Regions from separate parts of the Homo sapiens genome. Here region 2 is linked to region 1. The links come from fine-mapping of genetic effects on gene expression. A gene starts in region 1. The other region holds a variant in brackets. All regions are shown on one strand. Distances are from middle to middle.

The links. PIP is the estimated chance that this variant, and not a neighbour inherited with it, causes the effect. A credible set is the group of variants that fine-mapping cannot tell apart.
Region 2: its variant is the best candidate, but not a certain one, in a credible set for the expression of SLC35B4 in kidney cortex (GTEx, PIP 0.60).

The regions. Positions count from the first base shown.
Region 1 is chr7:134,314,832-134,320,215 of GRCh38, reverse strand. It overlaps SLC35B4 (solute carrier family 35 member B4), which reads left to right and starts at 3,286. Exons shown (of 10, transcript NM_032826.5): 1 at 3,286-3,541. The coding sequence starts at 3,465. RefSeq lists an enhancer at 2,766-3,495 and a silencer at 3,576-3,745.
Region 2 is chr7:134,353,156-134,358,539 of GRCh38, reverse strand. No RefSeq gene overlaps it. Among named protein-coding and RNA genes, the nearest start is that of SLC35B4, 39 kb to the right of the region's middle. The variant A/C (reference allele first, on the strand shown) is at 2,611.

The DNA of each region.
Region 1 (5,384 bases):
ATGAGAACCCCAAGAGGACAGAGCAGCTGTGTGCTGGGCACAGTCAGCACACAGAACCTGAGTGAGAAATACAGTGTGTGGGTTTTTTTATTTGTTTGTTTTGCTTTGAATCACTACAGTTTGGGGTGGTTTGTTATGTCGTACTACACAATTAGAAAAGACATCTTAGAATAGCAATGGGACATGAAGATTTTGGGTTTGTTTTTGGAATCAGCCTGGAGGCAGCAGGGAGGATGGGTTAAAGAACACAGAGGCTGAAGGCACCAAGATGTTAGGAGGCCTTTACGGGAGAAGAAGTGGATGTCAATGGGAATGGACAAGAAAGGCTGGAATCTAGAGATACTTGTGAGGTGGAACCGATGGGATATAAAGAGCAAATAAATGTGCAGTGGAAAAAAGAGGAAGACCGAAAACTTTCAGGTTTTTCCCAAAGAGAAGAAGTAGAGTACAATGTTCTTAATAGAAATAAAGGCCTATTAGGGAGGGTAGGTAATGAAATGTGTATGCCCTAATGGTGAGGGGTTTACAGGGAAACATTAGTGAACATTCCAAAGACACTGGAAATTTTGATTAAGGACACAAGGGAGATGGGGGCTGTACATAGACACACACGCAGGATCACTATTCCATATGGCAGTGGTGGAAGTTCCAGAGGTGAAATCGCCAAGAGAACATGTGCAGGGCAATGAGAGGAGGGAATAAATGATGGAACTCTGAAAGGAGAACCCAGTGGTCAGAGGAGGAGAGCCCATTAAGGAAACTGGAAAGCGTAAGTCAGAGAAGTCAAAAGAGAAACAGGAGACTCATGTCTTATAAACAGAGGGACAAGAGAATGTCAAGAAATATTGGGTTTTCATTGTAAAAAGCCACTGCCAGATCAAGTAAGGTGAGACTGTGTTATATGGTTTTCACAATTAAGAAGTCATCACGGCTCTCAACAGGACTGCTTTTAATACCCTGGCATTGATCAGAGTAGTTTAAGAAGCTGATTGGAGATTTAACAAGTAGAGACTACGAATGTAGATTACTCTTTAAAGAGAGTTGATGGTAAAATGAGGGAGGAAGAAAGATAAGTTAGTTTCTTTGAGCATGATTTTGGTCTGAGAACAGGTTTGCTAGCAAGAGTTCTCTGAGCAAATGAGAGGGGAGGATAGAGAGGTCTTCAGAGTTAATGATTTTACAGGCTTCTGCTCTCCAAGTGCAGTCAACAGGTCAGTAGCACCAGCATCACCTGGGAGCTACTTAGAAATGCAGAATCTCAGGCCATGCTGCAGGCCTAGTGAATCAGAATCTGCATTTTAACAAGATCCCCAAGTGATTAACATGCACATTAAATTAATACTCACTGCAGTAGGTGAAGACAGAAATGTGGAGGAAGGAAGAAAGATACAGAACTCTTGCAAATATTACAGTACTCAGGCCATTTTTTTCTTGTGCAATCACTTAGACATGCTTGGGTTTTTATCTGAGATGTAATGAGAAATGTTTAGAACATCCTTTAAGGGCTTCCAAATTAGTGGCATATATGGAAAATGAAGGTCTGTGTGAAGAGAAATCACCTCTAATGAAATCCAGATGAAAATCCAGACCAGCTTCCTGTTGGCAGGATTATTGATAGTGGAGGTGGAGATATTATCATTGCTTCAGCCTCACTCCCAGATAGTCCACTTTACTTGGTCTGAGGTAGAACTGGTACTATTATATACCTGTATATATACCAGTTATATATATATATATATGTGTGTGTGTATATATGTGTATATGAATATAACTGGTATATATACGTGTATATATGTATATATAATTCATTGTTTAATGTGCCAGCACTGTGCAAACTCAAGACGGGTGCTCATTAAATACTGAATTTCACAGGTAGTAGGCTTTCTATTTATGTTAGTTCTTCTTCCTACTCACCTTTTTAAGGCAGCAGTTCTCAAATTCTAGAATGCATTAGAATTAGAACGTGGAGTGCTTGTTAAAAATACAAGTTTCTAGAACCCATACACAAGGATTTTGACTTGGTAGGTCTAAAGCGAGACCCAATAATCTGCACTCGATAACGAGTACTTCAGATGATTCCAATGTGATCTCCCAGTCACGGACTGGGAAAAAAGCATTCCAAACTATTTTGTAGATCTCGAGAAAGACTTCAGAATGTTCGTGTCTCACAGGAAATAGCAAAAACAATATAGCATTCCAAAATCCTACCTAGCTTTGTACCGTGTACTTTGCTATTGCTGTTGGATTCAATTACAACGGAAATATTTGATGTGGTAAAATACTGAGCAGTGATGCTAACCTTTTATAGTAGACACTGGGAAGCAGAAAGGAAGTGTAAACACGTTTCCCTTAAAAACTAGTCTTGCTGGGTGGATAAAGTGTGCATACCTATTTTACAAATAAAGAATAGTGCCGCACTAGCTTATGTACGTAATATGTGCTTAACAAACATTTGTTCATTGAGTAAGTAAGAGTCAAGTCGAATGGCTCAGATTGTAAGTGCTATGAGAATTCCACTGTAAGAAGAGGGAAGTATGCCTTCTTTTCACCATTAAAGATCTGATTGCTGATATTGGCATTTTTGCCAGTAGAAGAGCCTGGACGTTGGCAGTTTTCAAAGCCCCCAGGTGATTTGACTGCGCAGCTAAGTTTGAGAACCACGGAGGTAAAGGAAGGGAGTACCTTAAAGAGCTAGGATTAGGGATAATATCAATAGATCACCTTTAAGGCTGCACCTCAGCCTAATTAAATCAGAATCGCTGGGGGTGGGACTTGGCTATCAGTCATCTTTAAAGCTCTCCAAGTGATTCCAATGTACAGACGTGGTTGAGAGCCATTGCTTTACTTGAATTCTCAGTGGTTCTTAATCCTGGCAGCATAATAGAGTCACCAAAGATACATATATATATATCAGTTCAGGAAGCAGAGTTGTTTCAGATGCTAGAACACCTCCAACGAGCAGTCACAGCTCTGTAGTTCTAGTGCCGCCGCTGCCAGCAAGTTTGTTGTGACCCTGGCGGCCGAGTTACTTTCAGCGCTCTGGGCGGTCTCGCAAGAAACACTGACGCTTTGGGACTTCATTTCCCAGCAAGACCCGCGGCCGCCTATCGCGCGAGTCATGCCGGGCACCTCGTCCCCCTGTCCTCTCTGGCGGAGCTGCCTGGCGGAAGCGGGAACGTCGCATCCTGAGGTAAAGGTGCACGGCATCCTGGGACATGTAGTCTGGCCGGGGCTCGGACGCCCCCTCGGATGAATGGGACCGAAGCTGACTGCGAACTACAGCTTCTTGGCAGCGTCGGTGTTGGCCGCGGGAGAAGGGGAGACCGCGGCGGCCCCCAGTGAGAGCGGCTTTCCAGGACGGTGCGATGTGCTGCGCAGCGAAGAGGCAGGAGGCCGGCTTCCTGGGGTAGCGGTACAGGCGGGCGCTTACTCTGTGCGCTTGCTTCCCCAACCCTGCACCGGCCATGCGCCCGGCCTTGGCGGTGGGCCTGGTGTTCGCAGGCTGCTGCAGTAACGTGATCTTCCTAGAGCTCCTGGCCCGGTGAGTGACCCGCTCGGGCCGCACCCGGTCTCCCGGGGCGGGGCGGAGGAAGCCAGAGGAGAGGTCCCCCCGGGACGCGCCCACGCCCTGTCCCCACCCCGCCGCCCACGGAGCCCGGGGCAGGACGGCCTGAGCCCCCCAGCAATCCGTCCTGTCTGGGCAGCCTGGGACCCCGCTGAGTCCGCTGCTTCCCAAAACTGCGCACCGGCGGCAGTCCCGCCTAACAGTTTCAAAGCATTCCTGCGAGGGGAAGACTCAGGGTGTTGCTGTCGTCACCCCTTTTCCACACTCGGGGGGTATTGAAGTCTGAAGAGTTTTTCACATGACCAGTCCAAGGTCGGCAGAGAGCTAGTGTCAGAACCAAGGTTCCTTCACCAAACCACTCTCTCTTCCTTCCCATCCAACTCTAGCTCTTTTTTCGATCCTGTTAAATGGCACAGGCTGGACTTGAGCAAAGGTTTTTGACTTGTAAAGCAGTCTGACTTTGTACATACTGCAAAGAAAGTTTTATTTTTATTACGGCATCCTGCAAAGCATTTGCTTTATTGGCCTTGGAAATGGTTATGAGTACTTTGCCCAAACATACATAAATGATGCGGTAGAACAGATTTTTATGTAGAAGATCAGTCCACGTGACCCGAGAGTGCTCTTTGAGGTGGCTTGCAAAAAGACAAAAAAAAAAGCAAGTAGAAGATTGGTCCAAGTGACCTGAGAGGGCTCTTTGAGGTCACTTTGAATGTGCAAAGTTCAGTGGATAGAAGCTATAACAGAAGAGACAACAGGTGGTGTGGAAAAGCCTCCAGGACTAAAAAGCTGGGTTGTGAATTTCACTCTTGGCTCCGTCGTCCACTGGCTGTGTAGCCCTTCAAGTCACTTAGCCTCTCTTGGGCTCCTTTTCCTGGCAGTAAAACAATACCTATAGTGTTCTCTAGCTCGTGTTTCTGAATCTATACATTACAAGTTGAGTATCCTTCATTTGAAATGCTTGGGAACGGGTGTTATTTGGTGTTTTTTGTTTTTTGTTTTTTTTTTGGATTTGGGAGTATTTGCATATACATAATGAGATATTTTACGGATGGTACCCAAATCTAAACACAAACTCATTTGTGTTTCTTATACACCTTATACACATAACCTTAGCTTGAAGGTAATTGTATACAATATTTTTAATAATTTGTACATGAATTAAAGTTTGTATACGTTGAACTATCAGAAAGCAAAGGTGTCAGGTGTGGAATTTTCACTTGTGGCATCATATCAGTGCTCAAAAAGTTTCATATTTTTTAGAGCATTTCAGAGTTCAGATTTTCAGATGAGAGATACTCAACTTGTATCTCTGTTGATCATCCGAACAATCCTGTGCAGAAGATTGGTCAAGAATTATAAACTGTTTTACTGAAGTGGAAATGGTCCAAAGAAGTTAGGTGACCCTTCACTACTTGTAAGTGGCAGAGCCAGAAATGGGACCCAAGATATCTAAGCTCCTAGTCCAATACCTTTTTCAACCTCCCTGCCAGTTTTGAACTTGAGCAGCCCATAGATTTTGGTCATCCAGTTCTTCATGTGGTGCCTACTAGAAGTTTATTTTATTTGATATCATTGATTAAATCATCCCAAAGCAACCAGTTTACTTAAGGTAAACTCTGTGTGGGGTTAAGTTTTGCTGTTACGGAGCTTGACATTTTATTGTACAGAAAGTGTTGATAAAGATCTGTTATTTGACTTGGGAATAGGTGATGAGGGATAAAAAATGAAAAAAAAATTGTATCCAACTGTAAATCTGATACACTTTTAAAGGAAGGCCACTTTGGCAACAATTGATTTGAAAATATAAAAAAGTTGG
Region 2 (5,384 bases), 38 kb before region 1:
CCGCGCCCGGCCTACTTGCTGTTATTTAATCAAGTTGAATGTAGAAGGCAAGCCATCTTAAAACTGCTTTCTTCTGGAGACTTTTGTTTGCAATTCCAAATCTTGCCACCAGGTGGTGGTGGCATGTTATTCTAGTTTCCAAGAGAACTAACTTCCTACCACGTGTCAGGCTGCACTGGGAGCCATCCCCACCTGATCTCATTTGATCCCACAGTGACCCTAATATTACCATCCCCATTTTACAGATGAGAAGATGGAAGCTCCAGAGTCCCGCCCAAGATCACACCACTCGTAAGAAGCATTAACTAGAGTTGTGAACCCAGGTCTGGCTTTAAAATCCCACGTTGTTCCCATTGAGCTCTGCTGTTGGAGGAGTTTCCTGAAAAGCCCCCTTACAATCTGCCACCTTTTCGTTTAATTGAGTGTGCCACACAGTTTGCCCTCCAATCAAGACTCTGTCTTGTTCCTGGCTAATCATATGGTTGGTCTTTCTGGCAAGGCTAACTCTCCCAGAGTCAAATGGTTAGCATAAACAATCAGATGTGGTCCTGGGGGTCTACCATGAATGACTAAGACACTCGGATCACTTGAGGAATTCCAAAGGTTTAGAGGCTCCCTTCCAGGAGCTGGGATAAGTCTGGATCTATGTTGGGATAAAGTTAATTCTTCACCGTACACACCTCTATGGCAAAATACAGTCTCCTGGGGCTCCTGTTCTCCACAATGTCTCAGAGTTCAGAAAAATCCTAACACCGAGCATAGTCCAAAATAATGGGGCCAAAATGTGAGGCTGTTTTGATCTGCCTCAAGCCAGGGGTAAATTTAGAGTACTTAATGAGCTATCTCTGATGCATACACTAGGGGCAAACTTCCATAAGTATAGTCTTTCTCTCAGCTAAGTTTTTGAGAGCTATTGAGTCAGTTTACACACCCTGATAACCATTGGAGAACAAGTATTTGATGCTATGGTTAAGCATCAAACTGTGTGCCTGAAGAGTCAAACCAAGTGGGAGGTAGGAGAATCGCTTGAACCTGGGAGGCGGAAGTTGCAGTGAGCCAAGGTTGTGCCATTGCACTCCAGCCTGGGCAACAAGAGCGCAACTCCGTCTCGGGGAAAAAAGAAATGTCAAATCAGCTGGGGTGAGACCACCGTCCTCTGATGAATGAGGACACTGACCTATAGGGATTGTCCTTACTTCAAACATGTGCAGGCTTGGAGTACCCCTGGCACCTAAATGGATTAAAAATACATTTGTCTCTCAAAAATGTATGGGCATATGTCAAATTAGCAGCATTCTTACTGCCAAGCAAATTTGCTAGGTCTATTTTTGAGTTGTAACACTTTGGCAATTAAAGTTATTCAGAACTCTTTTAAACTCTGGGAAACCTTGAAACTGTAAATGAAATGTTGTACGCATTGTTGTTTTTTAAGTTTCAACTATCAAAACTCAACAAACTTTAATGAATTTCTGAAAGCATCGCTATGAAGGTGAGAATGGGGAGACACCATTACCACTGGATCCATTTTGTACAAGTGGGTCTATTCCCAGCTGTGTATGATCGTTATGTAATTGGCATCCGTTGAGTGTGTGCAGTCCAGATGGGCCTGTGGAAAATAGTGTGCAAGCACCTGTCACTAGTCATCATAGGCAGGCTCTGTTAAGCTCAGATCTGAAGGCATTGGTCTGTCTCACCAGGTCTACGCTCTGCTATTCAAAGAAGCTTATAGCAGCTTCAGTGATTATATCAACTTCCCGTTTAATGTAGGAAGAGAGTAGATCCACCTAGTCTTATCACTTCCAAGGGTAAATATTACGTTGTTGGTGACAATAAAATTGGCAAAATGAATGTCCTCTTAGATGGCAGATGTTATCAAGATAGCTAGCTGCCCAGGGCTGGGCGTGGTGACTCACACCTGTAATCCCAGCACTTTGGGAGACTGAGGCGGGTGGATCACTTGAGGCCAGGAGCTCTAGACCAGTCTGGCCAACATGGCGAAACCCCATCTCTATAAAACATACAAAAATTAGCACAGCGTGGTGGTGCACACCTGTAATACCAGCTACCTGGGAGGCTGAGGCAGGAGAATCACTTGAACCCGGGAGGCGGAGGTTGCAGTGAGGTGAGATTGTGCCACTGCACTCCAGCCTGGGGGACATAGTAAGACTCCATCTAAAAAAAAAAAAAAAAAGCTGCTCAGTCACTCCCGTAAAAGCTGCCAGCCAGGATTCCTGCTCCCCTTCTCTTCTGTGCCAACAGCTTCATCGGGAAGTTGGCCACAGGGCCCTCTTCACAGCCTGTCTTATCCTAAGAGTGCAGCTTGGCCCAGGGCTCATTGTCTGCCAGATTTACTTTGCCCTCAACTTCCTACAGTCAAAAAAGAACTGCTCGGGCCAAACTGCTTCCTGGCAAATAAAGAAGCAAAGTCCACACGAGGAGTCTTTCTGGACCTTGTGACGTTTTTGTGTTTTGTGTTTTTGTGGTAATGTGGCATTGGAATGTTTAGCAATATGCCATTGTGCAACCTTCCAAACCCCACTGGGCATATGATCAGCAAAACACCAAAATTATTTTAATGCATAATCCTTGGTTCACTCTGTTGATTATTTA[A/C]CTTTACCTGGGGTTGTTTGTTAACTTGGAAGAGGGTAATTACATGCATTCTACATTCCAGGGAACTGAACACTGTACCTTACCCAATACACAACAGGTGCATAATATAAGTTACATTAAATTCCCGTTGGGTTTTAAGTCAGCACATACTACATTAATGAATGTGAGTTGATTATACAATCCCCCCATGGGGTGGGCACCCTGAGAATGTTTCTTGTGATGTTAGAGTTTGGATATAAACAAAATCTTACTGATGTATTGTCCTTGAATGAACAGCCTCCATTTAAGCATGCGGGAGGGAGTTTGAAGGTGATCAGCAGAGATTCATATTGATGAAAGAAAGGAAATCATTTGAATTTAACATGGCAATTCCGGAAAAGTATTCCCATGTATGTGGGGCTGTCCTGGTCCTAGCATACCCTGGAACAAGTAGCTTCAGGGTGCATCCAGAGAAACCATAGAGCAGCTATAGCATCGAGCACATAAACCTTGAATATCATCTACCTGTACACTGCAAGAGGCAGCAGCTCAGGGAGCAGAGACCTCTGAGGCCCCCCGTGGTCATTCCTGTGATCGACACAAAGATGTGCCACAAGGTCAAGGAAGGACTTGTAGCCCAGCCCTGGGAAGTGTGGTCAGCAGACAGCCTCTAGCTGTCCGCAACTTCAAGGTCAGCCTCAGCTGTAGAGAGCTGCTCCCTCGCTGGAGGTCACAATTTCCCAGGGCAGCTGTGCCTGGTGGCTGAGCAGGGCCAGGATACAAGGCCAGCTATCATGGTGCAGCCCTAGCTCCATGGCTCTCCCGAGTGGCCTGGGTTTTCTGAGGCCAGCATCATCTAGGTTCAGCTCCTTCCTCTGCCCAGTACCCCTCCTTCTTTTTACGGAGGTTAATTCCTAATACACATTTGAAGCCCAGACTCTTATCTCAGCCACTGCTTCCAGAGAAGCCAGCCTGGGCAGTTGCACTCCCTGCCAGCAGCACCTCCCCTTGACAGCATTCTAGGGGGCATGAAGTTTTCACTGCTGAGAGGTAAAGAGAATACAGACTTGAGGCGCACACGGAAGCGCATTTGGATAGTCCCATTTTGGCACTGTCCCCAATTTTCTGTGGTTGGACCCTGATGTGAAAAACAAAAAAAAAGACACAGACCTAAAATTTTTTTATTATTATTTATTTATTATTGGGACAGGGTTTTACTGCAGTCACCCAGACTGGGTGCAATGGCACTATCTCTGCTCACTGCAACCTCTGCCTCCTGGGCTCAAGTGATTCTTATGCCTCGGACTCTCAAGTAGGTGAGGCTACAGGCTACAGGTGTGTGCCATCAAGCCCGGCTAATTTTCTTTTCTTTTTTTTTTTTTGAGATAAGGTTTCACCATGTTGCCCAGGCTGGTCTCAAACTCCTTGGCTTAAGTGATCTATCCGCCTTGGCCTCCCAGGCCTGAATTTTTAAAATCATCACACTATTTCATTTAGAAGAAACTGCATTGCAGATAGGAAAGTGGGGGGCTCACTATCAGAGGAAAGGGACCATTCACACCAATTCTTTTTTTTTTTTTTTTTTTTTTTGAGACGGAGTCGCACTCTATGGCCCAGGCTGGAGTGCAGTGGCACGATCTCAGCTCACTGCAACCTCTGCTTCCCAGGTTCAAGTGATTCTTCTGCCTCAGCCTCTGTTCACACCAATTCTTTACATAAAAATGACCGATTTTCAAGAAGCTCAACCTAAGATCCCCTCCAGGGCTATCCTGTGGAGGGCAGGGAGAGGAGCTCCCCAAGCTCTGATAGGAAGGGGCTAGGACCATTCTAGGTGAATCTTTCTAGCAAATTTCACAGAAGCTATTTGAAAACAGTATTGATTACATATACTAGAAAATAGTCATATCTGTTCAGAAAAATATTTGCAGGGAGTTAAACATGAAGAGTCTCTTCATCAGCTGATATTTTAAACTCCTTTCTCAAACTACTGACATAAGTATTGAGTCGTTATGGAGGGACTGGTGTATTTCTGGATTTAGTCAGGAGATTGAGATCAAAGATCCTGCTCTGTGTCATTTCAGATTCAGAGCCCATTTAGCATTTTTTTCATCTTGTCTTGACTCATAATTTGTTGCTTATATATTCACCTCCTCTGCTAGACCATAAAGCCCTTGAGGATAGAGATATTTTGACTTATTTTTGCACCCACCTCACTCCTCCATACCCGACTCCATGCACAGTGGAGTGCCCATGAGGTTGGCAATCATTAAACGAAAAGGTAACAAAGTTCAAGGAAAAGTGGCAAAACATTGCAGCTGTGCTTCATGCCAAGCCTGAAACGAGTGACAGAAAGTTCTACCGAAGGGGCCACAGCCATCCAGTTGGGCCAGTCTCTTTCCTGGCAGTATAACTTAGCAGGATGTTGAGATTTTCAACAGGTCTCAACAGGTCTGAAGATGGTCCTGCCATACATTCATTTGAAACCCACAAGAAGAACCTGCTCACTTGTTCATTGAGTTCACATGGTCCCAAGTGGCTCTGGGACACCTGGAACGGTCTGTGGTCCGGGCAGAGGGAGAAGGCGCTGGGGGCAGGGGTTTAGGGGCGCATATTGTAGGCAATATCCATGTTTTCCTAACTGGGACTTTGGTTGGTCAGGGGGATGTGTATGGATTTCCAGGTACCTAGGGACTAGAGATTCCTTAGGTCTCTTTCTCCCATGAAGCCTCTTCCTTCAGCCTTCCAAGCTGCCAGTATCCTCCTATCCTTCTGTGACCACCAAGTTTTCTAAGGCA